Linked DNA regions of Homo sapiens: all the other regions are linked to region 1. The links come from fine-mapping of genetic effects on gene expression. A gene starts in region 1. Each other region holds a variant in brackets. All regions are shown on one strand. Distances are between the middles of the regions.

The links. PIP is the estimated chance that this variant, and not a neighbour inherited with it, causes the effect.
Region 2: its variant is fine-mapped to the expression of RAB11FIP4 in whole blood (TOPMed, PIP above 0.99).
Region 3: its variant is fine-mapped to the expression of RAB11FIP4 in whole blood (TOPMed, PIP 0.93).

Annotation. Positions count from the first base shown.
Region 1 is chr17:31,386,857-31,396,589 of GRCh38, reverse strand. RAB11FIP4 (RAB11 family interacting protein 4) reads right to left here and starts at 4,915. Exons shown (of 15, transcript NM_032932.6): 1 at 4,579-4,915. The coding sequence starts at 4,737. RefSeq lists an enhancer at 5,111-5,700.
Region 2 is chr17:31,483,855-31,493,587 of GRCh38, reverse strand. All of the region lies in intron 3 of RAB11FIP4 (RAB11 family interacting protein 4), which reads right to left. Among named protein-coding and RNA genes, the nearest start is that of MIR4724, 46 kb to the left of the region's middle. RefSeq lists an enhancer at 4,579-4,648 and silencers at 5,069-5,118, 5,209-5,948. The variant A/C (reference allele first, on the strand shown) is at 5,202.
Region 3 is chr17:31,519,701-31,529,433 of GRCh38, reverse strand. RAB11FIP4 (RAB11 family interacting protein 4) reads right to left here. Exons shown (of 15, transcript NM_032932.6): 5 at 8,074-8,268; 6 at 7,385-7,519; 7 at 7,039-7,074; 8 at 5,823-5,922; 9 at 5,438-5,541; 10 at 4,204-4,344; 11 at 1,511-1,592; 12 at 891-1,028; 13 at 656-814. Among named protein-coding and RNA genes, the nearest start is that of MIR4724, 10 kb to the left of the region's middle. RefSeq lists enhancers at 3,194-3,808, 3,749-4,043, 4,424-5,038, 5,697-6,331. The variant C/A (reference allele first, on the strand shown) is at 5,428.

The DNA of each region.
Region 1 (9,733 bases):
CAGCCTAGAACAGCCTCTCAAAAATGCTTGCAAGTGTTTAGAAAATAATAATAATGACAAGGAGAGCACCAGCAATTCTGATATTATGCCTACTCTGTGCAGATACTGGACTAAGCCCTTTGTATGTATTAACTCACTCAAACCCCACAATAACCCTATAGAATGGGGACTCTGATCAGCCCCATTTGATGGATGAGTAAATAGAGGCCTAAAGAGGTTAGGGAGACAATGCAATATATCAGAAGGCAACACAGGGTCAGGATGTTGAGCCATCATGTTACATACTTATCAGAGTCCTGCTCCCTGGCATTGTAGACTTTCAGGATCAGGGCAGTGGTGTGCCCCCATCCCTCAAAAATCTGCATTTCTTTCTTTTCTTTTCTTTTCTTTTCTTTTTTTTTTTTTTGTGGCAGGGTCTCACTCTGTCACCCAGGCTAGAGTGCAGCGATGTAATCTCAGCTCACTGCAACCTCCGCCTCCCAGGTTGAAGCGATTCTCCTGCCTCAGTCTCCCAACTAGCTGGGATTACAGGTGCACGCCACTACACCGGGCTAATTTTTGTATTTTTTGTAGAGATGGGGGGTCTCACCATGTTACCCAGGCTGGTGTGGAACTCCTGAGCTCCAGTGATCCTCCCACCTCAGCCTCCCAAAGTGTTAGGATTACCGGCATGAGCCACCACGCCCGGCCCATTGTCTCCTCTTTTCTGCTGTGATACCTAGGTCAACAAAGTAGGGAACTATCAGGGACTAACCTAATCCATAAATAACATTATTAAGTAACATTCATACTTGATCCTGACTTCCTTAGTTTTTACCTAATGTCCTCTTCTTGATTCTAGGGTCCCATCCAGGACACCACACTGCATTTAGTCAGCTGCCTCCTTAGTCTCCACTTGGCTCTGACAGTGTCTCAAAATTTCCTTGTTTTGGATGACCTTGACAATTTTGAGAGGTCCTAATCAGGCATTTTGTAGAATGCCTCTCGGATGGGATTTGTCTGGCATTTTTCTCAGGACTAGACTGGGATTACTGGTTTGGGAGGAAGACCACAGAGGAAAAGTTCTATTCTCACCACATCACACCAAGGGTGTATGCCATCATCACAATCTGTCACTATCGATGTTGTCCTTGATCACCTTCTGAGACAGTGTTTGTTGGGTTTCTCCACTATACAGTTGCTGTTCCCCCCACTTTCCAAACTCTACCCTTTATAAGGAAGCCACTACGCACATCTCATGCTTACACGGTGGGACGTTATGCTTCACTTCCTCAATGGGGCAATTATCAACATACGTTATTCAGATTTCTTCTATACGAGAGATTTTCCTATTTATTTATTATCATCTGTTCAATAATTTATACATATATATATTTCATTATGGCCTCATGGATATTTATTTCATACTTTATGACCTAGTATATTTTGGTTTTTGCAAAGCATTTGATCCTGGTATCCCTGGTATTCTGGGGGTAGGTGGTAAACTGTGGACAATCAGCTCTAAGTTCACTGAACTACATATCTAATGAATGATCATTATCCATCCCAGAGCACAAGTGGCTGGGAAATCAATGTCACTGCCTGATTTTAAAACAAATAAAATAGAAACAGTCAGAGTACACTGCATTTCGTAAGGGAGCCCCCCCCCCCCGCCCCCCGCCACCCCACCGCTGGAAAACAACACTCCGATTTTTTAATGCATCAGGGGATAAGATGGGTAGTGAGTAGAGATGCAAAATATATTTCCACGGGTCTCGGTCAATACAGCATAAGCCGAAAACCACCCCTACAAGTGCCTCGGGGCCCTGTCCATGGTCCTGCCCTGCAATGTTTAACCAGCCTTGTGGATTCAGACACACCAAGCACTGCTTCTCCAGCCCGCAGGCAGCAGCACAGCTGAGAGTGATAGAGGTAGGATGCTAGATTCTCTTTCTTGACAGATACAATGTGATGAAATGAACAAGACGAAATTAAATGGGAATAAGGGCCAAGAAACAGGCTTAGATTCCAGAAATTACTGACAGACAACAGGCCCGAATGCTTCCACAAGCCAGGATTGTTAAAAGAAAAAAGAAAAGAAAAGAAAAGAAAAAGGAATTGTGTACAGTAAGAGAGACTAAAAGGTGACAACAACCACATACACTGCACAGTCCTGGAGAGGAAACAGCAAAAATGGACATTTTGGGGTCAAATAGGGAAATCTGAAAAAGGTCTGCATATTAAACCAGATGAAAATTTATTGAAGCAGAAAAGTCATGATCATTTACCGGCAAAAAAAATCAGGTTACAAAACAGTATGCACAGTATGATCTCATTTTCTGGAGAAAATTGACATATAAGCATGGAAACAGCTCTGGAAAGGTCTGACAGAAGTGTCATTGAGGCGCTGCCTGAGAGATAGGACACAATACTTTTTATTTTGCTTGTCCCTATTTCCAGTTTTCTGCAATGCATATCCACCGCTTCTGTAGTAATCTCAGAGTATGCTTTTAAAAGAAAAAAATCACTGACCCTCCCCGAAGGGTGGAGAATCCCTGGCTTGGCAGAGGTTTCTAAAACAGATCCCTGGAGGTTTCGGTGGCCAGAAACTTAATATAAGCAGAGTGCAGTGCCCCATTCAGAGGCAGCCCCACCCTAAGCTGTGTGCATATGTGTGAGGTCTTGGGGCTAATATAGTCCTGGTGGGGGCGGCGGGGGGCGGTCTGCTTGTCCAGCCCTTTCATGTTATTGCTAGGAAAACTGAATCACAGAATTAGTCGATGGCAGCTCCAAGGCCAGAAGCCAGAGGTCTGGCTACTGGGTCACATGGAAATGGCCTAGGGCTTCAGGAACTGGGGTATTTGGCCTGGAGAAGGGAAAATGGGAGTATGGAGCTGGGAAGGAGAGAAGGGGCAGGAGTGCTATTTTCAAATATTTAAAGGCTCCCCCAAAGAAGAGAGACCTATGTGAGTCCCCGTGCAGAACGGTGATGACTAAGTGACAAGCAGGTCTGTCTCTAGAGTGTATGAGGGAGAAGGTTCTAATGGCAGGAACTGTCCAGCTGGGGGAGAAGTGGGTGAGGCTTGCTGGGCACGTGGCTGAGGCCGGTGGCCCCTGCCAGAGGTTGTTGGGAGGCCCTTCCCACTACTGAGGCTCTGAGTTCGGGGACTCCAGGTTTCAGCCAGAGCTGGTAGCTTCTTTACCCGACCTGCAGTCTGTGTTCTGAGAGGAAGGAGCGCGACTATCCCCATGCCAGGAGTCTGCTCAGCCTGCCCCAGATGGGAGCCACTGGAAAAACGGAAGGGCTTGGCTGGCCTTTGGGGAAGAAGGGTCATGGTGGCAGCAGGCAGTGTCCCTCAGCAAAGCCCCGCAGAGGGCAGTCTGGGCTCTCACAGGCACTGCAGTGGTCTTTCCTGTGGTGGGTACCTGAGTTCTCAAGCCCTGAAGCTGCCTCACTCTCTTCTGCCCACAGCTCTCAGCGACTCACAAGTCCCGGCCCATGCCCAGGTGCGGGTGGAGAGATGATTCTCAATCGCCTCCCACTCTCTGGTGACGCAGAGGCACGGGCCCAACCTGGCCATCACCCAGCTTCTCCCATGTTCTGAAATGCCTGGTCCGACCTGTTCTGGGAACACAATGCCAGCCAGTGCCCATTTGAGGCCCATGGCCCCAGGCCCCCCATGCAGGGCCTGAGGCCTTAGATGGCCTTGGAAACCCACTTCTCAGGGCTTTTGGCTCCAGGGGAAACCCCTGACCATTTCAGCCAGGTGGGTGTCTTGTCCTCCCCTTGAGACACAGTCCCCAGTCCCCATGCCGGTGGCACCAGAGGACACTGGTGTAGTGTGCGTTTAGTGATATGACTCCGTCCACCCTACTGGCGGCACCGACCCTCCGCTTCCAGCCCTGTTAACAATCTACGTAAGTCCTGCTTTCCCCAAATAGATGCGGCCCCGCCACATGAAAGCCCTCTGCTCAGCCACCACTCCCCGAGCCTGGCTTTGCCTGGCCTGCTGCAACCAACACAGCCAGCTGCCAGCCTGGCTGCCCAGCAGAGCCTGAATGAGAGGTCACCCGACACTGGCCCGGGAGTACACGGTGGCCCCAGCAGACACCTCCTTCCGTGTCTGGGCAGGGTGTGTGCAGCCGAGGAGCCAAGGCTGCAGAGCACCCCTACCGGTCCCTTTCACCCCCTGGCCCGGCCCAGCAGGACGTACACAGACCCTTGCATCTTGGTCTCCGCAGCGCCGGGTGGGGTGGGGAGCCTAGGGCCGGATTCTGGCAGCTCTCTCCCCCAGACAAGGGTGGATGTGCAGACCGCTCAGAAGGACCTGCATGGCCGAGGAAGGAAGGTGGGCGCAGAAGCCACCCTAGGCGTGACGCGTGACGCTCGGGGCACGGGCGCCGGGGGGCGGAAAGCGAGGGCCCGGCTGGGCCAGGGATACCCGGGGGGGGCCGAGGTCCTGGGCTCCGGCGGAGGGAGGGGATTGGGAGGGAGGCCACCGCCTCGGGCCACGCGGGTGACCCGGCGGGGGAGCTGGGGGAGGGGCGGCGGGGCTGGGCTGGGGTCCCCGGGCCGGGACTGGGGTCGGGCCAGCTTACCTCCTCGCCCTGGCCGAAGCGCAGTCCGAGCGCCGCGACGCGCTCCACGCGCAGGAAGCCGTCGGGGTCGCGGCCGCACACCTCGAACACCTCGCGCAGGCGGCGCACGGAGCGCAGCAGAGCCGCGGGGGCGCCCGACCAGCCCGCGCCGCCCGCCATCCGGGCCGGCCCGCAGCTCAGCCCGGACCCCTCGCCCGCCGCGCCCGCCGCCTGCCCGCCGCCGCCATCGCCGCGCGCCCTCCGGGGCCGCCCGTCTGGGTCTGCGCCGCGCAGCCTCCGCCCGGTGGCGGCCGCGGCCGATCCGTGTCAGCAGCGGCGCCGCAGCCCCAGCCGCTCCGGAGGGGAAGGGAGGGGAGGGGAGGGAAGGAGAAGAGTGGGGAGGGGAAGGAGGAGGGGCAATAGGGGGCGGGGAGGGGAGGGGCGGGGGCCGCGGCGAAAATGGGAGGGAGAGGGGGAGGCGGCGGGGGCGGCGGCGGCGGGGACGCTGCAGACAAAAGGAGCCCGCGTCCTCCCGAGTGGGGCGGCCCACGCGGGGCCGGCAGGCGCAGCGAGCTGCCAACGGCCGCGTCCTCCGCGACCTCAGTTTCCCTCCGCGTCCCCAGTTTCCCTCCGCGTCCCCGAGCCCACCCCTTCCTCTGGACACCCGGAGCCACCCAAAGGCCCTGCCCTGCCGGAGGATTCCGCGGGGTCGCGCCCCTTTCCGCTATCCGTGCCCGCTGCCGCGCCTGGCGTCTCCCGAGCGCTCAGGATGTCCTGGGGGCCTCCTGCATTGGCGCGTTCCGTGACTGCATTCATCCCGGAGGAAGCTGAGGCCCAGAGAGGTCGGACTCACTCTAGGCCACACAGCTGGCAAGAGGCAGGGCCGGGATTCGCTGCCATCTCTGGAGGGCTCTGGACTCCGTTCTTCACCTCCGCCCTGCGGTCTCCCGGCGCTCTCCTGCAAGACAGCACTTGTGGGGCCATCGGGCGGGGGAGGGCACAGAGAGGAGGAGCAGGCAACTGAACCCCAGCCTGGACCCGGGACCCTGCGACGGGGAGATGAGGAGAAAACCAGGATGAGGCCGGAGGGAGGAAAAGCGAGGCGCTTCCAGAGGCCTGCCTGTTCAGGGCCCAAGGCTGCTCCACGCCTGGAAGAGGCTTCCTCCCTTTCGCCGGGTTCCCACCATCACACCTCCCTGGCAGCCCGCATGCCCCAAGCTCAGAGAATCCAGGACAGAATCTCTGTCCCGCTGGCCGCAGGCTCTAGGTCAGGACCCTGGCCTCCTCCCATTAGTGCTCAGCGGAGCCTCCACCCCAGCTTGTGCTAACTTCCCAGCCCAGCCTCGGGGCCCTGCAGGACCCGGCCGGGCTCTTCTCTCCACCTTCTTGCTCGGCACATCAGGTCTTTGTGGCAACGACTGGCCCCAACCCAAAAAAAGGCCTTGGCTGAGTCTACTCCCACCTATGCTGTCATGCTCAGCACAGAGGTTTCCTCCTCCGGGAAGGCTTCTCTGATGGCACGCCATCTTATCTTCTATTCTGAGTTCTAAGCCCTTCTTCCAGGTGCCCAGTTAATTCTTAATTCTCTAGTGGGATGCCCATTTCCCCTACCATGCTGGGAAGCCCTCCAGGGCAAGATATGTCTTAATTACCTTCAAGTCCCTGATCTCCAGGCAAGAGTGGGCCCAGAGGAAGCCCCACCCAGAGGGGATGGGCCCGCCCATTATGTGAGGAGCCGGGAGCAACGTAGTGGCGCAGACAGGGAGTACGGGGTGAACTGCATGGCCTCCCCTAGCTGGGCCTCGGTTTGTACCTCTGTGGTCTTCCTGCTCAACCCTGAATATATCCTGCGCAGGGACTGCCATTTGCCTTCTGACAGTGGGCGGGGACCTCTTCTTTCCAGCCCCGGCTCCTGGGATGAACCTGGCTTTTAGCTACTCTCCTTTGACCCTTCAGTTCGTCTGAGAGCCACGAAAGGCAACACCTCTTGGGAAGAGAGACCTGTGGTTCTGAGGATTGAGGAGTCCGAAATGTGAGAAAGCGGGAAAGGGGAGGCCGTGGGAGTGGAGTAGGGGTATTCGGCTGAGTAGGAGCGTCTCTGCTAGCTGGATGCCGCTCAGCAGGATACTAGCATATTTTAGCCGGTTTCCTCGCCTGTACCGTGAGGATAATAGTACCTTCCTTTTAGGGCAACTGAAGATGAGAGCGAATCTAAGCAATGCTGCTTTCCCCCGACCTACCCTGCAAAATGGAGGTGGAAGTGGAGAATAAGGACAAGCAGCTGGCTGGGAGAGACTGGCTGCTGGAGATCCAGCCAGCCCCCTGGCAAGGAGGTAGGGAGTGGAAGCTGGGGGCTGCTGCCTGCCCCTGGGACCCCGATATTAGTTCGTCCAAGGTCAGCTCGTGCCATTTTCTCTCACCCAAGGGGCTCAGCACAGAAAGGAGATGGCCAGGAGCTGGGGCTGCCCCCTGGTGGGGGCTGCAGAAATGGCTCTCCGCGCTCAGCCTGGCATTGAATGCCCCCTAACTGGGGACAGGGGAGCTGGAAGACTCACCCACTTCAGCTGGCAGAGGCGGGGACCTCAGACCTGAGCATGAACAAATCCCAAGTGAACCAAGACAGAATCCCGCAACCAGATTAGCCAGTTCTTGTCAAAGACAGGATCATCACAAATTCAAAAATCCCCCAGGAGAGCTTTCCCTGACCGGACTCTCCTTGCCCAGGTCTCTGCAGTTTTGTCTCTGGTGGGCGATGGTTTGAAGGACACCTGCCTCCCCCACCAGTGGCACTGGGTCTCTTGCTCACCGCTGTGCTGCTGGGGCCAGCAAAGCACGTCACAGGCATTCTTTCTGGGGTTGTCACGTTTTTGTTGAGCACCTACGTTGTGTTGGGTATGCTAGGGAGACAGTGAAAGGGGTGCAGCCACTTGCTGAACTTGATGGGGGCAGTCATGGCCCAGTGTGATCTACACTGAGGTGCCAGGCTCTAGGAGCCCAAGAGGGCCTGCAGAAATGGCTGAGTGCCTACCCAAAGGTCCCTCAGAGATGGTGCAATTTATGGAGTCCTTGGGTCCTTGGAAGTGGACCTGGGACCACTAGGGCTCCCAAAACCCTGATCCAAGAGCTCAGAGTGCAGCCCCGAGCAGAAGCAGCAAGAGAATACCCATGTCAGGGCCGGCTGCAGGGTGAAGGGGGTTGCTCCAGGAAAGCAAGAGGTCCCCATGGATAGGGCGGGAAGGCGCGGAGCCTCCTTTCTGTCCTCCGCTTCCTCCAGGTGACCTCTGATTCTCCAGGGGATTTCCAACAGCTGCAGCAGCCTGGGCAGGCTGGAAATATACTGGGAAATATACATGGAAGGGACAGTTGGGACTCCGGCCCCTTCTCTAGGAAGAAACAAGTTTGATCAGGTCCCTCCCCTGCTGAAAACTCAATGGCCACCATTGCCTGAGCTGGCATTGTGCAGTGTCTTCATACTCTCCTGCCTCTCCTTAACCCTAGTCTGGGAGCATCCAGGCTCCCTCCTGCCTCCCTTTGCTTAGTGGGTGGGAGGTCTCAATCCTACCCCCACCCAATTCCACTTTCTCTAATTCCTGTCCTTGTGTTGTGGAAGTGGCACTTCCTACCGGAAGCCTTTCATGACCACCCCACTCCTTGCCCACCTTGACCACCTCTCCCATGTGCTCCTGCAGAGAAGTGAAAAGTACAGACTGCAGCCCACTTACAGGTATGGATAAGGCTGTGGTGAGAGTCAGTAAGTTAATACATACATTGTAAGTGTCAGAACAGTGCTGCTGGTTAGTGACAGCTATTGTCCTTGTGACTATCCTTACCATCTTACTCCTATTGTCTATCACCGGATTATCTGGGAAACTGTATGAAAGGTCACAGGAGTGACCATGAGGTCCCTGGGAGCAGGGACTGTGTCTATTTCTCTCCTGATTTCTGTAGCTCCTAAATAATGCCCATACACACATAGTTAGGGTCTGTGTAGGAATAAATTAAGGAATGGACAAATATGGCATGGTAGGCTGAAAAATGCCCCCTTAAATGATATCTATATTCCAATCCCTGTACATCAGTGGTCCCCAACCTTTTTTGGCACCAGGGACTGGTTTCATACAAGTCGGGGGAAGAGGGTCTTGGGATGAAACTGTTCCAACTTAGATCATCAGGCTTCAGATTCTCATAAGGGGTGCGCAACCTAGATCCCCCTCCTGCGCCATTCACAATAGGGTTCCCGCTTCTATGAGAATCTAATGCCACTGATCTGACGGAAGGTGGAGCTCAGGCGGTAATGCCCACTCACCCGGCGCTCACCTCCTGCTGTGGTTCCTAACAGGCCATGAACTGGTAATGGTCTGCAGTCTGGGCGTTGGGACCCCTGCTGTAAATGTTACCTCATTAGAAAAAGGGTCTTTGCAGATGTAATTAAGGATCTGGAGGCTGGGCGTGGTGGCTCACGCCTGTAATCCTAGCACTTTGGGAGGCTGAGGCAGGCAGATTGCTTCAGTCCAGTAATTCGAGACCAGCCTAGGCAATGTGATGAAATCCTGTCTCTACTAAAAAATACAAAAATTAGTTGGGCATCGTGGCATGTATCTGTAGTCTCAACTACTCAGGAGGCTGAGGCAGGAGGATGGCTTGAGCCAAGGAGGTGGAGGTTGCCGTGAGCCCAGATCATGCCACTACAGTCCAGCCTGGGTGACAAGAGTGAGACCCTGCCTCCAAAAAAAAAAAAAACAAAAAAAAAACTAACAACAAAAAAAACAACAGGATCTGGAGACAGGGGGGTTATTCTGGGTTAGCTAGGTGGACCCTTAATGCAATCACACATATCTATAGGATGGATCAGAGGCAGATTTGACACATAAAGAGAGGGTAATGTGACCACAGAGGCAGAGATTGGAGTGGTGCAGCCATAAGCCAAGGAGCAACAGCAGCCATCAGAAGAGGCAAGGAGCAGAATCCCTCCCAGAGCCTCTGAAGGGCCCACAGCCCTGCTGATGCCTGGATTTTGGCCTTCTGGCCTCCAGAACTGTTACAGAATAAATTTCTGGTGTTTTAAGCCACCAAGTTTGTGGGAGCTAGCACAGCAGCCATGAGAAATGAATACAGATGGGATGAATATCATGTGGAAGTTATCAAAGATTATGAAGAGCCAGGCTTTGGAATTCAA
Region 2 (9,733 bases), 97 kb before region 1:
GGAAAACGAGGGAGCAGGGGGCAGGGACTTGCTGCTATTCTCGCTCCTATTCTAGGAGGGAGACTTGAGTCTGGTGCAGAGGGTAGACACCCCTCAGCTCCCTTACCCCAAGTTCACCGGAGCAGCAGCAGCTATTTGAAATGTGGGTTCCCTTTCCATGGTATCAGGCTTGCACAGCGCAGGGGGGTGGGGGGTGACCACAGATGACTAAAGAGAGAGAGCCCGCCCACTCTCCCACACTCCAGTTCTGTTTAGGCCTTCCTCTTTCTGGTACCTCAAAAGAGAAAGGCTCCCATGAGCAGAGCCACAGATATTAATAACTTCTACAGAGCTTTGTTTTCATCTGAATTAATGTTTACATTGTTGGGAAAGAACCCACTTGTCTGGGAAGATGAAGCAGGTTAGATCAATTAAAAATGTGACCAACAGTTGGAAAACTTCCCATTTCTTAAGGTCAGTCAAGAAGTGGGTTTGGAAGTGCTGGCATGACTAGCACTGGCCTGCTGGGCGGTTCTGGGCTGGAGGTCACTCAGACCCCACAGCTCTGGGCCATCACAGCCACCCCTCTGACCTTCATACGACCCTTGTAGGCTGCACGTCCTTCTGGTTGCCTATGTTCTCCTCCCCGTCTCATCTCCTTTCCAGGTCATGCGAAAAAGTGAAGAAGTAACCACCAAGGTTGTCTGGGTGCTCAGGGGGGTTCTGAGAATCTGAGCTCTTGTCATCAATGCTCTTGAGGGGGGCTCAGCTCCTGAAGCACCAAGACGCTCGGGACCCCTCTGAGCAAGGCCAGCTGGGCGCCCCCAGCATCCACTCAGCCTTGAATGGGGTCCACAGAAGCTGGCCAATGACAAATTCCATTCAATTAACAGTATTATGATGAAGCTGCAAACACTTGGGGAAGGACTGCCATGTGTAGTCAGACACTTGGCATGAGATAATGAGAAAATAGCTCCAAATGAAAACAGATAAGGGTGCAGTCCAGGCTTCTGGGGGCACCTTCTCTGCAGCCTGCCACCCAGTGTGGGCTCCAGATCATGGTGCTTGGAACCGTGGTCAGGCCCAAAGCTACAAATCCTCCCAGGATAACATGTGCTGGCCAGGAGAGGTAGCCAAGACACCCTGCTGAAGCCCCACCCACCAAAAACTCAGAGGGCACCCCAACCTTCAGCCACCCCATAGCAGGGGGGTGGATGAACAGGATGCCCCATCCGAATGCCGCATGACACGCAAACACACGTGTGTGTACACACATATATATGATCTGGGGCCCTAACCTGGACAGACTAAACCCAAAGTTGCTGCTCAAATGTGGGAGTGACTCCCTGGGGTCCTTAGGACCCCATAGAACTGTGCTGCTGCCTGCCACAGGCAGAGGGAGTGAAGAGGGAGGCCAGGGAACCCTTGAGGATCAGACAAGAGATGAGGAGACAGCCTGGGTGACACAGGCCAGAGTACGGAAAACACGGGCAGGCTGCTGGCTGCTTTATGAGCCTTGAGAGCAGGACCTGTCCCTACCCGACAGGAGCTGACCCGTGGGAACAGCAGGCAGGCCCAGGCAGCTGTCAGAGACACAGCTGTATGCACATCGCCGGCGTGCCCTTTGCTGGTTTGATTCGTGTGGTGGCAACAGCATAGTCTGGCAGGAAATGTTTCCACGTTCACATGGACAGGCTCGTCTGACCCAACTCAAGCTGAGGGCAGGGAAGTCTGTGGCAGCAGTGGCCACAGAAGCCTGTCCTCCAGAAATGCCTCAATGCCCAAATCCCCTCGACGCGGAGGCTCTGAGAAGGGCAGAGCAATGGAAGGCAGCTCGTGCCTGTGGATTTCTAGTCTCACTTGTACTGTCAGTCCCCTCTCCTCCTCCTCCTGGGATTCTGGGTTGTCACAGCATTGGGTGGTCCCCCATCTCTCTGAGCTTGTCCCCTGTCCCCCCAGCCCTGGCTTGCTCTCCAATCACATCCTGTCTTGTAGTTCTGTGGACAGACATAGCATGCCAGCCACCGTCCCACCTCAGGGCCCTTGCAGTTCCTCTTTTCTCTGCCTGAACCTCTTTCGTTTGGATGTCACCTTCTCAGTGAGGACTTCCCTGTCTGACTCTGAAACCCAGCACTCCCTCCCCTTCCCTGCTCTTCCTCCTGCCAACTCCCATACTCCGTGTTTTACTGCTCTACCTGCCTCACTACCATCCTGCGAGCTCCTTGAAGGCAGGGGTTCTCGTCTGTTTTGTTCACTGCTGTATCTCCAGTGCCCAGCACAGAATCTGGCACAAAGTAGGCAACGAAGAATCTGGTGAATGAATTCAGTACCACTTGCCCTGTACTGGGAAATGTGCTGGGGGCTGAGCAAACAGAAATGGGGAAGCCTCCGTGTCCTGAAACGCCTCCTGGTGAGGGAGACTGTGGTACCATTCAGGGGCAAAGATCGTACGACATCCAGTAAGGCACCAGGTGGGACTGCCAAATAGGCAGGCCTGTCTTGTGGTGCCTAATTGGTATGGATGGGACCACCCAATAATCCAGCCATGAGACCTGAGATGAAGTAACTGGGCATTGATCTTCGAGGCCAGTGTTTGAAGCCATAGGTGCCCAGTTCCTGAGTCAAGAGCCAGCAGAGCTGACCCAGAGGAAGACAGAGTCCAGCCCCAGGGGTTCTGTATGCCTGGCAAGGCCAGGGCACTGTGCCCCACTGCTAACACCAGACAGCAGGCACGAACAGATAAAGATGCTTCAGCTGGGTGTGGTGGCTCATGCCTGTAGTCCCAGCGCTTTGGGAAGGTGAGGCAGGCAGAACCCTTGAGCCCAGGAGTTTAAGACCAGCCTGGACAACATGGCAAAACCCCATCTCTACAAAAACAAAAACAAAAATTAGCCAGATGCAGGGTGGCACACACCTGTAGTCCCAGCTGAGACTGAGGTGGGAAGATTGCTTGAGCCTGGGAGGGTGGGAGGCTGCAGTGAGCCCTGATCACACCACTTGACTCCAGCTTGGGCCATAGAGCAAGACCCTGTCTCAACTCAATTAAAAAAAAAAAAGATGCTTCCTTTTCAAACACAATGAGCCCTGTGCCAGGAAACAGCATGCCCTTTCTCATTCGGAGATGCCTGCCTTCTGGGAACTGCTCACCTGCTATTTCATTGGGAGCCTCTCCTACCCCCTTCACCCCCTCCTTACCCATACCTAAAACATATAAAGTGAAATTGCGAAGTCTCCTCAGAACAGAATCAGTTGTGAAAAACCTCAGCATAACGGGCTGCCCAGATCGGGGACTGCCAGATACCTACGGGTACAGATGAAGGAGGGAGTTGCAAGGGCCCCAGGTGAACGGCCAAAGAGAAAACCTTGGGTCTGAAGCAGCCTGCCTACCAGGAGGGGAAGGGGCTAGGAAGGCACTAGCATGCTTTAGAAGTGGCACAGATGGTCGGGAGGGAGAGTGAGGGCCGGTGGAGTATCTCAAGCTGCAGCCCAGAGCCTTCCGAGTGCAGGCTGCCCCTGGAACCCCAAAGGAGGTGGCTTAGAACCCAATGGGCCCTCTAATTTCTTCTGCTTTTCCTCCCCCACTTGCCTAAAAGTCCCTTCCGAGGGCAGGCTCCAGGCAGTCTCTCCTACAGACCTCCCTTAGGGCAAAGGTCATGCCTTCCAGCTGGCTCACCTGGCCTGGCTAGTCCCGCCCCTCGCCTCCGGCCCAGTCTTATCTCTTCTACTGGCCTTAGTCATTTACTCCACCCCCTTCGCCTAAGTCCAGGCCCCCCCTTCAAATTCCGAAGCTGTTCTCCACTACGCATTTGCCCAAGGGGTGCTGCCTTCTGCAGTGAAGAACCCTAGCGGCTTCCCTCACCCCGCCAGGCGACACTCTCCCCTGTGAAGTGACAGGGACCTCAAAGACAACTGCAGGCAACTTGCAATCAACTTAGAAGAGCTGGGCAGGCCCAGAGCAGACCCAGTATTCAGACTGCCTGAGCTTGCAAACACCTTGAAGGCAGGGAAGTGTCCCGTGTGTAATGTTCCCTGGGAACATAATCAACAGTCCCCGAAAGCCAGAAAGCAGGGTAAGGTTTGGGCCAGTGCCAGGGTGCCAGCACCTGGGGGAGACCCCAGTCAAAGGCAGCGACTCAGGCACTCCACCAACGCAAGGCTAGTTGGTGGGGGGAGGATATGGGGGGGAGTGAGAGCGCTCCCATTGCAGAGGTCTAGTGGCACACAATTAGTACTGCCTCCGACCCCTTTGAGTCTCCTTTTTCCCATCCCAGCAACCACTGTAACCACCTTTCAGCTGGGCCAGGACCTGGGGATGTTCTAAGGAATGTGCCTGCCCCATTGCTTTTCAGCGTCCCAGAAGCCCAAGCCAATGCCACCTGCCTCCTGCTCTGGCAGGGCAGGGCAGAAGTTTGGTGGATCACCAGGAACCAGCCCAGGGTGCTGCCACTCCAAGACCTGGTGGAGGCTAAGTGCAGAGACAGGACCCAGACCTCTCACATTGCTTTGAGAAAATCGGTCAGTCAAGGAAAACTGGCATGGCCCTCGGGGCGAGTGAGGTGTCATTTCCAGCCCTCTGTGGGAGAGCAGGGTGAGGGAAAAGGGAAAGAGAAGGCACTGGAGAGTTTGCATGGGCGAGGAGTAGGGTGCGGGGCTGTGTCGGAACCCAGTTCCCCACAGCACAGACACGCTCTCCAGAGACTGCGCCGCCAGGACCTTGGAGACACTTGTCGCCCGCACAGAGAAGCGGCTGTGCCAACAGCTCCCACCACCGGGCCAGACCGGCCGCCTCAAGGGCCACAACACACCTCCCACCACTGCAGCTTCTCGGCTGGGGAGAGGCAGGGCCCCGGCCCCACACCACGACCTGGGCTGGCCCCGAGGACTCCCCACCTCCACCATCCCAGAGGGACGGGGGAAGCCAGGAAACAGGCTCTGTGCAGCCGCCAAGAGCTACAGAAAAACTTCGCGGCGCTCAGCCCCCTCGGGGACCCGGCCCAAGGGTACGGCGCTGGGTACCACGCCGATCCCGCAAGGGCAGGAGGGCAGGGGCGCTGCGGCCGGAGGTGGGGCCCGCCGTCGGGTCCCCAGGGAGGCGCCCCAGCAGACGAGCCCCCTTCCTAGTCCACTAAAAGCACTTCCTGGAACTGCGCTGGGGAAGGAGCCGCCACCCGCGCACCTGGCAGCGGCTTCTACTCGCGGCCGAACGAGATGGCTCAGGTAAC[A/C]CGACCTCCCAGGCCAAGTCCGCTCTCCGCCAACTTCCCGGGGCCGCGGGCCGGGCCGAGCCAGGTGCGCGCCGCCGGAGCCCTGCGAGCGCCAGCCCCGGGGCCGCCGCTTACCTGGCTCCCGAGAGCTGGCGGGGTGCGCATCCGCGGGCCGCTCCCCGGCAGAGGCGCGGAAGCCAGCGGGCGCGGGTCGGCGGCGCGCGGGGACGCGGCGGGCAGCCCCGAAGCGCAGGAACAATCGCGGCCGCGCCGCTGCCGCTCGCACTTCTGGGCACCAGTGGAAGGCGCGGCCCCGCCCCCGCCCGTTGCCGGGAGACCCGCGTGGGCCGAAGGGCTCTTTGTATCAAGCTGCGGTGACATCACGAGGCGCCTGGGCCCCGGGACTCGGGGGCGGGGCCTCGCGCCGGGGCGGGGCGGGGGCGGGGGCGGAGGACAGGGACGCGGCCCCGGAACCCGAGCCGCGGGGCGGGGCCCAGGTAACCCCGCCCCCAAGGTAGGGGCAGGTGGCTCCAGGGCGCCGACCAATGGCCGCGCGGCCGGCCCCGCCTCCGGAGGTGGAGCTCGCCTGGGCGCGCCCAGCTCAGGGCAGCCCTGGCTGGGACTCCAGGAGTCGGCGTGTGAGCTCGCGCCCCTGCCAGGTAGGCGCTGTAGTCTCTTGCCCGTTCTGCGCCACCCTCACGGTTTTTTGTCACCGCACTGTGAGATTCCGGCCGGCGCTCCCCGGCTCACACTGCGCACCCCGCCCCACACGGTCCGCCGCCGCCTCCACCCCCTAATGAGTCCGGGGGCGCCTAGGCTGACTTTCATCCAGAGTCCTACCCACAACTTTTCCAGCCTTTTCATGTGAAGTCGGAACCATCTCCATAACCAGCCCAGGAACACAAAGAACCAAGCGGCAACGAGAACTAAAGAACCAAAAAAAAAAAGGAGAGGACCCTTCCTGTTGAATGCTAGTAAATACTATTTATGTCAAACATGTGTCCTCAGGCCGGGCACAGTGGCTCAGACAAAGTGGCCGAGGCGGAGGATCTTTGAGGCCAGGAGTTTGAGACCAGCCTGGGCAACATAGCGACATCTCGTCTCTACAAAAAATTAAATGTTTAAAAATGTACTCCCCATCCCCCCATCACTCTTAACCATGCCCTGGACTTTAAAAAGACAAAAATGAGATGAATGTAAAGCGGCAAATATTGCAAATGTGGTTGCCCTTTGACCTGCTGTTGCACTATATAACTTGAGTGAGGGGAGAGATTTATCTTCCTGTCTGGCTCAAAGCCACCTTTGCCTTCCCTGAGTCTTCACTGGCCAACAAAGTGGCAACGGCACTTTGGTACGGGCAGGACCAGTGGGGCATCTGGGTGCTTTGGTCCTGCACCACCCTACACACCCACCCACACCCACACATGCACACACACACATGCACACACGCACCAGCTTTGCCCACTTCTCTGCCTCTTGGCTGTCAACTTCCTTCTCAGTCTCTCCTGCCAGTAAATTCGCAGCGGCCCCTATGTTTACCAGGGCTTGTCTCTGAGGCAAAGCAGCCGCTGGAGCTCCCAGAACTGCTGGGGACTTTCCAAATGGGACAGCATTAGGTACAGGAGGGCCTCCTGGCCAGAGCCACCTAAGAGAGGAGCTAGAGCTGTGGCCCCAAGAGAAACTCCACTGCCCCAGCCCTCTCCTCGGAAAGTATGCCTTGCTGTTCAGAGATATATGTGCAGAGGCCAGACTGTTTCTCTTGTTTGGGTCCGCTCCCACAGTCTCTAACACACAGGAGCACTGTGGTGTATCATATAGAACACACATGTTGGTTGGATGTGGCGGCTCATGCCTGTAATCCCAGTGCCTATGAGAGGCCAAAGCAGGAGGGTTACTTGTGGCTAGGTATTTGAGGCCAGCTTGGACAACACAGCAAGGTATTTGAGGCCAGATTGGACAACACAGCAAGACCCCATCCCTACCAAAAAATTAGAAATAAAAACATTAGGCAGGTGTGGTGGCACGTACCTGTAGTCCCAGCTACTTGGGAGGCTGAAGAGGATCACTTGAGCCCAGGAGTTTGAGGCTGCAGTGAGCCATGATGGCACCACTGCACTCCAGCCTGGTTGACAGCAAGACCCTGTCTCTATTTGTTTATTTATTTATTTATTTTGAGATTTATATTTCATTCTGTTGCCCAGGCTGGAGTGCAGTGGCGTGAGCTTGGCTCACTGCAACCTCCGCCTCCTGGGTTCAAGCGATTCTTCTGCCTCAGCCTCCCAAGTAGCTGAGACTACTGGTGTGTGCCACCACGCCCAGCTAATTTTTGTATTTTTAGTAGAGACGGGGTTTCACCATATTGGCCAGGCTGGTCTTGAACTCCTAACCTCATGATCTGCCCGCCTTGGCCTCCCAAAGTGCTAGGATTACAGGCGTGAGCCACTGCGCCTGGCTGACCCTGTCTCTATTTAAAAAAAAAATAAGAGTACCTATGTGGTGTATCATACCACTGGCTTTGAAATCAAACAGACTTGGGTTTGAATTGAGTCTTATTTCCCAGATGTCTTGGGACAAGTTCTGTTACTTCTCTAAGACTCAATGTCTTCATCTGTAAGATGGGAATGGTACCTCACAGGATGTTGTACACCCTAGCACAGTGACTACACTTAATTTTAGGCACTCCTCAAAGGTGTGGTATGCGATTGAGCCCATGCACCCTGGGCCCACTCTATCTGCCTTCCCATCTCCACCCTGAGACCTTAAGCTCAGCAGTGTCCCAAAAGGTTTTAGGATGTGGCTGAGTCCAGGGGTTCTATCTTGGTTTCCCTTCTTCCCTTCCAAGTCCGATGTTGCCCCTAAGGATTATTAGGCTCAAAGCAGGTCACATGACAGGATCGTCCAGAACCAAGAAAGAAAAGCAGAAACCAAGGGTGATCATCCCTTCTCTGGTCGTGACTCTCTCCCAGAGAAGGTCAATGGAGAAAGTCAGGCCTGTCAAGCCCCCTCCCTGTCCCCACCATGGGCAGCCTGAGCGACATTTCTCAAGAGCTCTATGGAACGGGTGGTATCAGTAGGTCCTTCTTTATTTTTCTCAAAGGTAGTGGAGTGGGGAATGTCTGCAGGTACTTGTCCTTAAAAGCAGAGTGACAGAGAAAGGCCACAGATGCATTGAACACTCCTGGGTTTGAAGCCTGCCCGGTTCCACTTATCAAGGGAAGTCAATGTTTTGGAGCCTCAGTCTCTACCTCTAGAAAATGGAAATAAGACATTTCCTCTTGCAGTTGTGAAGTTTCAATGAAATGATAAAGTGTCTAGTGCAATGCCTAAGATGCTGCAGGTGCTCAATAAATGGCAGTTCCTAGTCACTACCAGCAGCATGAGTGAGCTGCAGTCTGACGCACTGGTTCTGTGCATGGGTGCCGGGGCCAAGGGCCATATCTTGGCTTTACCACCTTGTTGCTAAATGAACGTAGGCAAGTTTAAGTCCCAGTGTCTCAATTTCCTCATCTTTAAATTGGAGATAATAATAGTATGTATTTTAGAACTATTGTGAGGATCAAAATAATCAGGACCAGTAAAATACATAGAACAGAGCCTGGCACAGAGCAGGTAACCAATAAACAGTAGCTATTACTAATGATCATTATGGCAAGAGGCTGAGGGGAACAGAGGTGAGGATTAGAGGCAGCCTGAGGGAAAATTTAGGACCCTGACTTTTGAGGGAAGGGCTAACACTTTCCAGCAGGGTTCAGAGAAGCAATGATAGTCCAGTGGGGGGTGGGGTGGGGATGGTGACTGTATCTGATGGGTGAGATTAGACACAGGATGAATATGGGATCTGAGGGCTCTAACACAGGCTAGGATTCAGTGTCCTTGGTTCAAACGGGGGCTAAGAGTGAGTTAATAGGAAATATAATCCTGCCTTCTGAGCATAGCACCACCTATGAGGATGTGGGGAAGGAAGGTCTTGAGTTAGGTACCCTGGTCTCTTAGCATTACCTGTGAGGTTCCTTTTTTTTTTTAAAGAGACAATGTCAGGCCCGGCGCAGTGGCTCACTCCTGTAATCCCAGCACTTTGGGAGGCCGAGGCGGGCAGATCACCTGAGGTCAGGAATTCGAGACCAGCCTGGCCAACGTGACGAAACCCTGTCTCTGCTAAAAATACAAAAATTAGCTGGGTGTAGTGGCGAGCGCTTGTAATCCCAGACACTCTGGAGGCTGAGGCAGGAGAATCACTTGAACCTGAGAGGTGGAGGTTGCAGTGAGCCAAGATTGTGCCACTGCACTCCAGCCTAGGTGACAGAGGAAGACTGTCTCAAAAAAAAAAAAAAAAAAAGATAAGATCTTGCTCTGTTGCCTAGGCTGAAGTGCCGTGGCACAATCATAGCTCACTGTAGCCTCAAACTCCTGGGCTCAAGCAATCCCCCCACCTCAGCTTCCCAAAATGCTGGGATTACAGGCATGAGCCACCATGCCTGGCCTCTCTGTGTCTATTTTCTTTCGCTGCCACCATGCAAGAGTTAGCTCAACATTGGATGGTGTAAAGAAGCAAC
Region 3 (9,733 bases), 130 kb before region 1:
TAAATTAGCCAGGTGTGGTGGTGCTCTCCTGTAGTCCTAACTGCTCGAGAGGCTGAGGTAGGAGAATTGCTTGAGCCCAGGAATTTGAGGCCATAGTGACTGTGATCACACCACTGCCCTCCACCCTGGGCAACACAGTGAGACCCTGCCTCAAAAAACAAAAACAACATTAGCTGGGCATGGTGGTGTGTGCCTGTAGTCCTAGTTACTAGGGAGACTGAGGCAGAAGGATCACCTGAGCCCAGGAATTCAAGGCTGCAGTGAGCTATGGAGTGCCAAAGCACTCCAGCCTGGGTATCAGAGCAAGACCCTGTCTCTTGGGAAAAAAAAAAAAAAAAAGGAACCTTGGGTGAGGGTCTACTTCTGGGAGAACCCAATGCCTCCAGGCACTATACTGCAGCTGGGTATGGTCTCATCCTCCACCCTGAGCACCAAGGCAGGGTCTATTTCCTTACATAGACGTAAGGGAGAGATCTTTGGATCGATTTTCCTGAGCTGTGAAATGGGGCAGTCAGCCCTGGCAAACAGGTTGCTGAGAAGCAGACAGGCAGTGCTGCTACAGCTCTGGGCTCCCCTACCACAGATCCTGCACAGGAAACCCACGTGGTGGGCCCGGCCACCCTGCCCCACTGGACACAGAGACTGCTAGACCCACCTGCTTGAGCCGCTTGACCTCGTGCTCGAGCTCCACCTCGCGGGCCCTGGCATTGAACTCGCCTAGGCCAGAGGAGGCACTGCGGCCCCTGCCTGGCCGCTCGCAGTCCAGCTTGTACATCTGCAGGTGCTCCAGCTCCTTCCGCAAGTCCTCGATGAGCTGCGAGGGAGAGAAGCAGGTTGGCAGGAGCAGGGATGCTGGAAGGAGCCCTGGTGCCTGCTGGCCTGGGACCTACCTCCTGCGTCGCCTCCCGCTCCTTCTGGAACTCAAGGCGGTTCTGTCGCAGCTTGTCCATCATGCGCTTGTACAGGTCCATCTCATCTTTGAGCCGCAGGCTGGTGTCCTCCAGACGGTCAGACATGCGCTGCCGCTCCTGGAGCAGGGAGACCCGATCAGGGGAGGAGAGTTCCCAGAGAGGGGCTCACTATGTCCAGGGGTGTCCCTGGGGTCTGGTCAGCCATCTTCACGAGGCAGATGCACAGTGAAACCAGCTCCCTTAGACGGAGCCCTGAGTCTTGGCTTACAGAAACGGCCAGAGCCCCGATGATTCTAGAAATACAACTAAAAACCTCAGGCCTCTGAAGTCCTTCAACGATGCTAGATGCAACCTGAATTGAAGGTGTTAGCCCAAATAGAAGCTAACCTCTTTCTAAAACTAATTTTTCTCCATTGTATAAAGTAATAAATACATTCGCTGTAGAAAACTTGGAAAATCAGAAATACAGAAACACAAGTTGTTATTCACTTTTTTTGCATTTCTTAGGGGGTGCGGCATTTGTTTAGAATTTCAGAAGCAATAAACTAAAGGCTCCCGATGGCCAGCCCTGCCCCTCCAAGCCTGGATCTGCTGCTCACCTCATCCAGTTTCTCTGTTTGAGACTTGAGCCGAGTCACTGTTGTTCTAAGCTCTGTATTTTCTTCCTCCAACTGCTGCACCCTGGCGAAAGGAGAAAGACAAATCTCAGAAACCTGGAATGTAGACTATCTGATAAGCGCCTGCCAGTCTGCAGTGATTCTCTGCTTCCTCCCAGAGGAAAGATACCAGAAACCAACTGAGAGAAAGAATATGATTATTATGTCAAAGACAATTTAGCCGTGAGCTTCCTATCAGCCAAAGCAAAATAGTAAGGACTATTTGTAAGCAAAATAGTAAATTATCATTCTTATTTTCTTTCTTTTTTTTTTGAGACAGAGTCCTGCTCTGTTGCCCAGGCTGGAGTGAGGTGGCACAATCTCAGCTCTGCAACCTCTAACTCCTTCAGCAATTCTCGTGCCTCAGCCTCCTGAATAGCTGGGATTAGAGGCATGCACCACCACGCCTAGCTAATTTGTGTATTTTTAGTAGAGACGGGTTTTGCCATGTTGGCCAGGCTGGTCTCAAAAACTCCTGGCCTCATGTGATCCGCCCACCTTGGCCTCCCAAAGTGTTGGGATTACAAGAGTGAGCCACCACACGTGGCCTTTATTTTTCCAATAAGTGGAAACATTCATTAGAGAGTAGGAACGCAGATTCTTCTTGTATGCATCCTTCAGATCCTCAGACAACACGGGGATGTCTTTCTGCTAGATGGAGAAACAGTCTTCTTGTGGCTTCTGTGACTGGGCCCTCCTGTTAGACTCTGTAACTTGAAGGCAATGATCATATTGGCTTTTCATTCTCCGCCAACAGCATCTCATCCAGGGCTCTTCTCTGAGCGCTCACTGCACCTCCCTCTGATGACCACAGGCATGGGCTCTGACAGTAATAATCCTCTGTGTTAGCGTTCACACAGGAATTCCACAAAGGGAATCCTAAAGGGATTCCACAAGAAGACAGAGCCTGGGTGTTCAGGTCAGTTTTTTGTTTGTTTGTCTGTTTTGAGACGGAGTCTCAGTGGCGTGACCTCAGCTCACTGCAACCTCTGCCTCCCGGGTTCAAGCGATTCTCCTGCCTCAGCCTCCCGAGCAGCTGGGACTACAGGCGCGCACCACCACGCCTGGCTAATTTTTGTATTTTTAGTAGAGATGGGGTTTCACCATGTTGGCCAGGATGGTCTCCATCTCCTGACCTCGTGATCCACCTGCCTCGGCCTCCGAAAGTGCTGGGATTATAGGCGTGAGCCACTGTGCCCGGCCTCAGGTCAGTTTTAAATGGTCTGAGAATAGGTGCAGGTGAGTTGGGCCGTCGGTGGCAGCAGAACTGAACAGGGTCACTTCTGGCAGTGACTCCTGCAGAGCATCCCGTTCTCAACCCACCACCTCCCCATCATGTCCTCTTTCCTGGAAGGATGGCTTCTGGGCCTCCACTGCCCTCTGGGCTCCAGAGAGGAATTCAGCCCCACCACCAGCAGGTGGCCCCAAGCGGGTGGAAGTGGTAGGGAACCAAGCATACGGCAGGACTCTGGGAACACCACTCGGATATTTTACACGAATGGCGCCCCCGGAGCTGTGTGACGGGCACACGTTAGGAGACAGTTCCCGAGGGCTGGCTTTCTGCACTTTGTCCTGTGGCCCAGGTTCACACTGTCTTTTACCACCTCCCGTGTCCCAGCCACCTCTCTTGGGCCAGCTGCCGAGGCGGGCTGAGCGAGAGCAGTCACCCTTAACTAGGCACCAGCCTCCAGAAACAGATGCAAAACAGCAGCTTCTAGAATAGAGTCAAAATGTAAAATGAACCCCTGGTGGGTAACTTAGCAAAGCAGGTCTCAGACACCGGGGAGTTGGGAAGTCTCCTCACCAAACTGCACAGGGGCAGGGACACGGGGGCAGGGAGGTACCTGCCTGAGAGCCCAACTCCCAGTCATTTGCTCAGCAGCCCACCAGCCGCCAGGTGGGGCTCGGCAACTCTGGGAAGCCTCAGCATGGAGACTGGGGCCTCAGGGGGCCTGAGGAGTGCCAGGGCAGCTGTCCTCTCTGCCAGAAGCCCAGGCGGCCTCCTCGGCCTCGGTCAAGGGCCGCAAAGGGGCTTCATCACAGAGGCATCATCATAGCCCTCACCCGTGGGCAGGGTCTGGACTTACATCGGCTCACCCACCCACACAGCCGCTCTGTGGGGCACACAGGGAGGTGACCCAGTACGTCCAAGGCCATGGAGCTAATGGGAGACCAACTCAGATCCCTGGCCCGGGGCTGCTCCTTGTCCCGCCTGCGTCACGTTCCAATGACGAAGCCACAGGTACACGCAAGGCACAGGAGCCGGGTTTTCCATTTACCTTGGCCCTGGGGCTCTGGCTCAGTCCACCAGGGGTCAGGGGAGAACCTGACAGCAGGGGGCGCTCCAGGCCTGGATGTGAGACCCAGCCCAGGCCCTTTTCTCTGACAGACATTTGTGTGGTTTGCATTACCAAATGTGAGCCACGCTCCTGGGAACATTCCTTAGCGAACTTCCTGAAGAGCATGCCTCTGTGTTTCTCGTGGTATTAAAGTGGAACTGTTACTACTGGAAAGTCTCAAGAGGCTGCCCCTCAGCCTCACATTCCCATCTATAAAATGGGGATAGCGCCTATCCCACAGGGCTGCCCCAGGACAGGGGGTCCCTCTGAGGGAGGGGGCTCGGTGGAGGGGCCCACCTGGCATTGAGCAGCTCCACCTCGGTAGCCTTCTCCCTCTCCAGCTTGCCGTAGGCCTCGCGGTGGCGCCGCGCCTCCTCCTCCAGAGCCTGCTCGGCCGTGGTCTCCTGATCCTTCACCATCTCCTCCAGCTCATGCACCCTGAGGACAGCGCAATGGGCAAGCTCTTGGGGCCTGCACCATTTCACCCCAACCCAGGCTGTGGCACGGGGGACCCTGGGCCCCGAGACCCTGAGTCACTGGCATGTCCACTGAGGGCGTGTGGGCCAGTAGCTTTCAGAGAGATGAACGGGGACACCGCACATATAGAGGGGGTGTCGGTCACACATGCCATGGAGGGGCAGGCCTGGCAGTCAGAAGGTGGGGCGCTCAGGGCAGCACAGGGAGGGACCGCCCCCACCAGTCCCTGCAGCCACACCTGGCCGGAACCACCTCAGGCCTCACCTCTTCTTTTTGTGCTGTTCCTTCCCGGCCACCCCTCTGATTAATAATTCAGCTTATTGGGCACCTTGACTCCCAAAATAGGCACATCCTGGCTGGTGGCCTGAAGTCTGCCCCAGACCTGGGACAGGGCCAGGGGCACGTAGATGTGAGCACCCCAGTGACAGCCTGGTTGGTATTTCGGTCTGGGATACGTCTCACTGGCAACAGCCCCTCCACCAGGCTGACCTTCTGGGGTGTACAAAAGGGCCCATCTTTGGGCCCTGTGACAAGTTGGAGGACCGGACCCCTGGCCAGGGTATGTCCCCCAAGGGTCATGCCATCTGGTGAGGACAACTAAACCCTGAATCCACCACTGCAGACAGCATCAGGAACGGCAGGCTCAGGGGACCTCCATCAGCAGCAGTGCTGGACCCTTCCCACCGCCCAGCTCACACTGGCCTGTCCCCTGCAGAGCTTGTCCCTAGGAAGGGACGTCAGGCTCCTGTCACTGTATGAGTGAGACACAGTGGATCCCCACTCCCATCTTGGACCAGCCCTGTGGCTTCAGACCTCAGGGGGTAGAATCCATTGGGCCTAGAGCCAAGGTCAAGCTCCAACCTGTCTCCCTGTCCCTAAGGTCCTGTCCTGGGCACCACATGTGGGCAGGGCCATGTGACAAGAGGCTGATGCGTCACAGACCCTCAGAGCTGCAAAGGCATGAGGCTGCCTCCTCCTGGAGGTCTTAGCAAGATGGACCCCCCTTTGTTCCCCAGCGTCACGGCCGAGCCCCCAGCGCCGCTG[C/A]CTGCTTGACCTGTGCACCAGCTGTGTGTTCTCTTGCTTCAGCTTGCTCTTCAGGTCCCCATTGGTCAGGCTGTCATTCTCCAGCTCTGTCACCTTCTTTTCCAGGAAGCTTACCTGCAGCAGGGGGCCGGGGTGGGGTGGAGAAGACCTCTGAGGCCACAGAACCGAGAACCTCGACGCCATGAGGTTCATGAGCAGGACCTCCAAACCACTGTGTATCTGAGAACGGTCATGTGTGGGGTGGGGGAGTGGGGAACACGTGACCAGGGCCACCTGCCCCCAATTCCTAGGCAGGTACAGGGTCTCCCAAGTCCCCAGACAGTAGCCTGAGTGCACCCCATCTCCCCTGGGAGCAGGCATGCATTCAGTCCCTTCTCCAGCCACCCAAGGCCCACCTTCTCTGTGATGTCATTGTCGCAAGAGTCAATGCTGTCCCGGAACAGGTCTTCGGTGCTGCCATTGCTGCTGCTGAAGTTGCTGCTGTGCATGAGCTGCCTGCAGGGGTGGGAGGAGGGTGTCTGGCTGCAGGGGCCTTCCAGAGACAGGGGCCTACTCACACTACTGGCTAGGCGAGCATCCAGTACCCCAGGGGGTCTGCCCCTTTAAGGAGGCTGCCCTCACTCAGCCTGAGAGGAAGAATGTTGCCAAACTCAGCGGATCACCCCGCCCAGAGGATGGCAAATGGGCTGTACAGACCCCCGGGGTCCCCTGGCAGACACAGCCAATGACGCACAGCTTCTCCTGCGGCCTCAGAACCCTCTTCACGCCAGCATGCTGGCCTGCAGCTACCCAGTGACCTCAGCTGGCACGTGAGCCCCCTCCTCTTCCAGTGGGGAAGCCCCCAAGGAGGTAGCCCAGCTCCATGGCCCTGGAAGAGGGTCTGGGCCTCCTGAGGCTTGAGCCTCTCCACCAAGCTGGCTCCTGCTACGTCTCTGGGAACTCTGGGGGATGGCAAAGGCAGAGAATTCTCCAGGCCTTGCAGAGCAGTGAGCTGGGGTGGGACTGGGCCTGCTGAGCTAACCCGTGCCTGAGGCAAAATCCAGCTGCCACCCCCAGTGACATCCCCTTCCAGCTCCCTGATAGGCAGCAGCCAGGGTCTCTGCCAAGAGGCCAACCCACCTAGCTCCTGGGCCCTTGCTGCCAGCTCCCAGAGCCCTGAGTGTGGACCTGGGGCCACACTGAACTGCCGCAGGACTTAATCGGAGCAAAGTGACCAGCCCCAATGGCGCACACTCATGCCCAGATCCCCGCCTGCAGGAAACCCGGGGTCTCTTTATTGAGTATGGCTGCCAGCTCCAAGAGGCAGGAAGGGCACTGAACGCTGTGGGGTGCTCTGTCTCTCTCAGGGCATCCCTGGCATGCCTGCCTGAAGTCAAGGTGACCTAGGATTTGAAGAAGGGACAAGGGGTGGGGAGAGAGCAGGGAGGAGCTGGCCCCTCTTTTTCAGAAGTGACGCTGCCCTGGCTGCACTGCCCTGGGATGGCCTCGTTCCCCTCTGCTCACTCAGCCACATGCGGGCACCAGCTGAGTCCGGGCTGCTGGCAGGGAGCCCCGGCCAGTGGGCAGCATGGGGACAGCACTCAATTTGCCCTCCCTCGAGGCGGGCCTTACCGTCCAAAGGCCGTGCTGGAGATCTTTCGGTTGGGGCTAGAGAGAGAAAGGAAACAGTCATTGAACAGAGGGGTTCTAGTCCACTCCCTTACTCTGTCCTAGCTGTAAGACACCACAGTGCAGGACAAGGCTCTTCCCTCCCACTGAAAGGAATTCACTAGTCAGCTTGGTCCTGAGAAGAAACAGCCTGATTTCCTGTGGCAGAAAAAGCCCCTGGATCAACCCTCCTCTGAGAGCTCTCACCTGCCCAGACAGCAGGGGTCGCCTCGCCATGCCCGTAGCTTCTCCCTCCAGGCCCTGCCCTGGCCCCCCGGCCTCTCACCCCCCAGCTGGGCCTGGGCCTCACCTGTTGGCCTTCAGGTTTTTCAGTCGGGCTTCCAAGTCATTGAGCAGGTTGATTTTCTTGCAGCATTGAGAGCAGTAAACATCTAGCAATTCGCTGTTGTACACGTGCCGCATTTTCCTAGGCGTCTGCCCCGCACTGATTCATGAGGGAAAGGAATCACCACCTTAACTGCTGTCCAGTCTGGTGCCCTACACCACCCTGCTGAGCTGACTTTACTTGAGTCCCCAGTACCTTTGAACCTTGTTACGGGGGAGGGGCAGGGAGTGGAAATATAGCAACAGATCATCCCTTCTCCAACACGCTCAAAGAGAAGCCAGTGAGGCATACCCATTTAACAGCTAAGGCAAACTGCGAGCTCATTTCAGAGAAAGTGGTGACTCAGGTGGGTGAGAAGGGATCACAGGGGTCACTTGGAAGGATGCTTCAACACTGAGGTTCTAGGATACAAGATGACACAGAGCCCCGTGGCCCCCAGTGTGCAGCCTCCTAGGTCAGTTAATTCAGGAGGAACTCCTGACCCCTAATCAGGGTGCGAAGGTAGCAACCCCAAGCCCCAGGAGCAGAACTCAAGTAGCTGAGGACAAAGGAAAAGGGCCAGCTCAGGACTCGCACCCCCCCACCCCCTAGGATGTGCTTAAATTGCTTCTGCAACTTTTGACCCCAAATGACATCCCAGACCAAGGGGCCACCTGGAAGACACCGAAGACCCCAGGTCCGAGTAGACGTTGGTCCTGGTCTCATCATCGGGGCAAGGGCTGCTGGGGGCACAGTCCACATCGTCACCCTCCCCATAGTCTTCAAACTGCTCCTCATTGCTGATGAGCGAGGTGGTGGAGTGTGTAGAAAGGTCTGAGGTCGTCATGGATGGAGTGTGGACCAGGGACCTGAGGGTCCGAGAGCACCCAAGTCAGAGGAGGACTCATGGGTCCCCAGCCACAGCCCGTGGTGGGGAAACTGACAGGCATTTCCCTTTAATTGGCACTACCGATTAAGTTTGTAGCTCTTGACCTGGTAAGTACATTTCAGGGACCCTATCTAAAGGGAAACATCTCACCACAGAAACCATTTCTACAGTTCAAACCAATTCTACCCATGCTACTCCACAGTAGCAAAACACTGCTTACAACCTAATTGTCTAGCTACAGCTAGATCAAATTATAATTATTAAATTATAATGTTAGTAAATTATTAAATTGTGGAATATCAAATAGTTGTTGAAAGGTTTGTTAAAACATTTGTAGTAGTGGCAGGCGCGGTGGCTCACGCCTGTAACCCCAGCACTTTGGGAGGCCGAGGCGGGCGGATCAGAGGTCAGGAGATCGAGACCATCCTGGCTAACATGGTGAAACCCCAACTCTACTAGAAATACAAAAAATTAGCCGGGCGTGGTGGCGAGCACCTGTAGTCGCAGCTACTCAGGAGGCTGAGGGAGGAGAATGGCGTGAACCCGGGAGGTGGAGCTTGCAGTGAGCCGAGATTGTGCCACTGCACTCCAGCCTGGGCGACAGAGGGAGACTCCGTCTCAAAAAAAACAAAAACAAAAAAACAAACAAAAAAACATTCGGAGTAGCTGCTCTGCTTCTGTAGTAGCCATTGTTTTATTATTTCCTTAATAAACTTGCTTTCACTTTAAGGAGAGGAAAAAAAAACATTCGGAGTAATACAGAAAATGAATATAAATGGATCTAAAATTTTAGATACTGTAAGACTGAGTATGGTCATCCCTTGGCATCCAAGAGAGATTTGTTCCAGGACCCCCTGTGGACACCAAAATCTGAGGATGCTCAAGTCCCAGATATGAAATGGCATAGTATTCACATACAACCTATGCATATCCTCCTGTATACTCGATCGTCTCTAGATTACTTATCATACCTAATGCAATGTAAATGCTATGTAAATAGTTGTTATACTGTGTTATTTTTTAAGTTTGTCTTTTTTTTTTTTTTTTTTTTGGAGACAGAGTCTTGCTTTGTCGCCTGGCTGGAGTGCATTGGTGCAACCTCTGCCTTCCAGGTTCTAGTGATTCACCTGCCACAGCCTCCTGAGTAGCTGCGAGTAGCCTCCTGCCACCATGCACAGCTAATTTTGTATTTTTAGTAGAGATGGGGTTTTTGCCATGTTGGCCAGGCTGGTCTCAAACTCCTGGCCTCAGGTGATCTGCCCGCCTCAGCCTCCCAAACTGCTGGGATTACAAGGCTGCTCCCAGAGAGCAGCACGAGCAGCACGGCCCCTCTTCTCCATCCACAGACCCAAAGGGCCCCACCAAGAACATCAGGACTCTGAGAATCACTTGAGTTTGAGAAACCCTGCATTGAGATATACTAGGTTGAACCACATGAAATTACT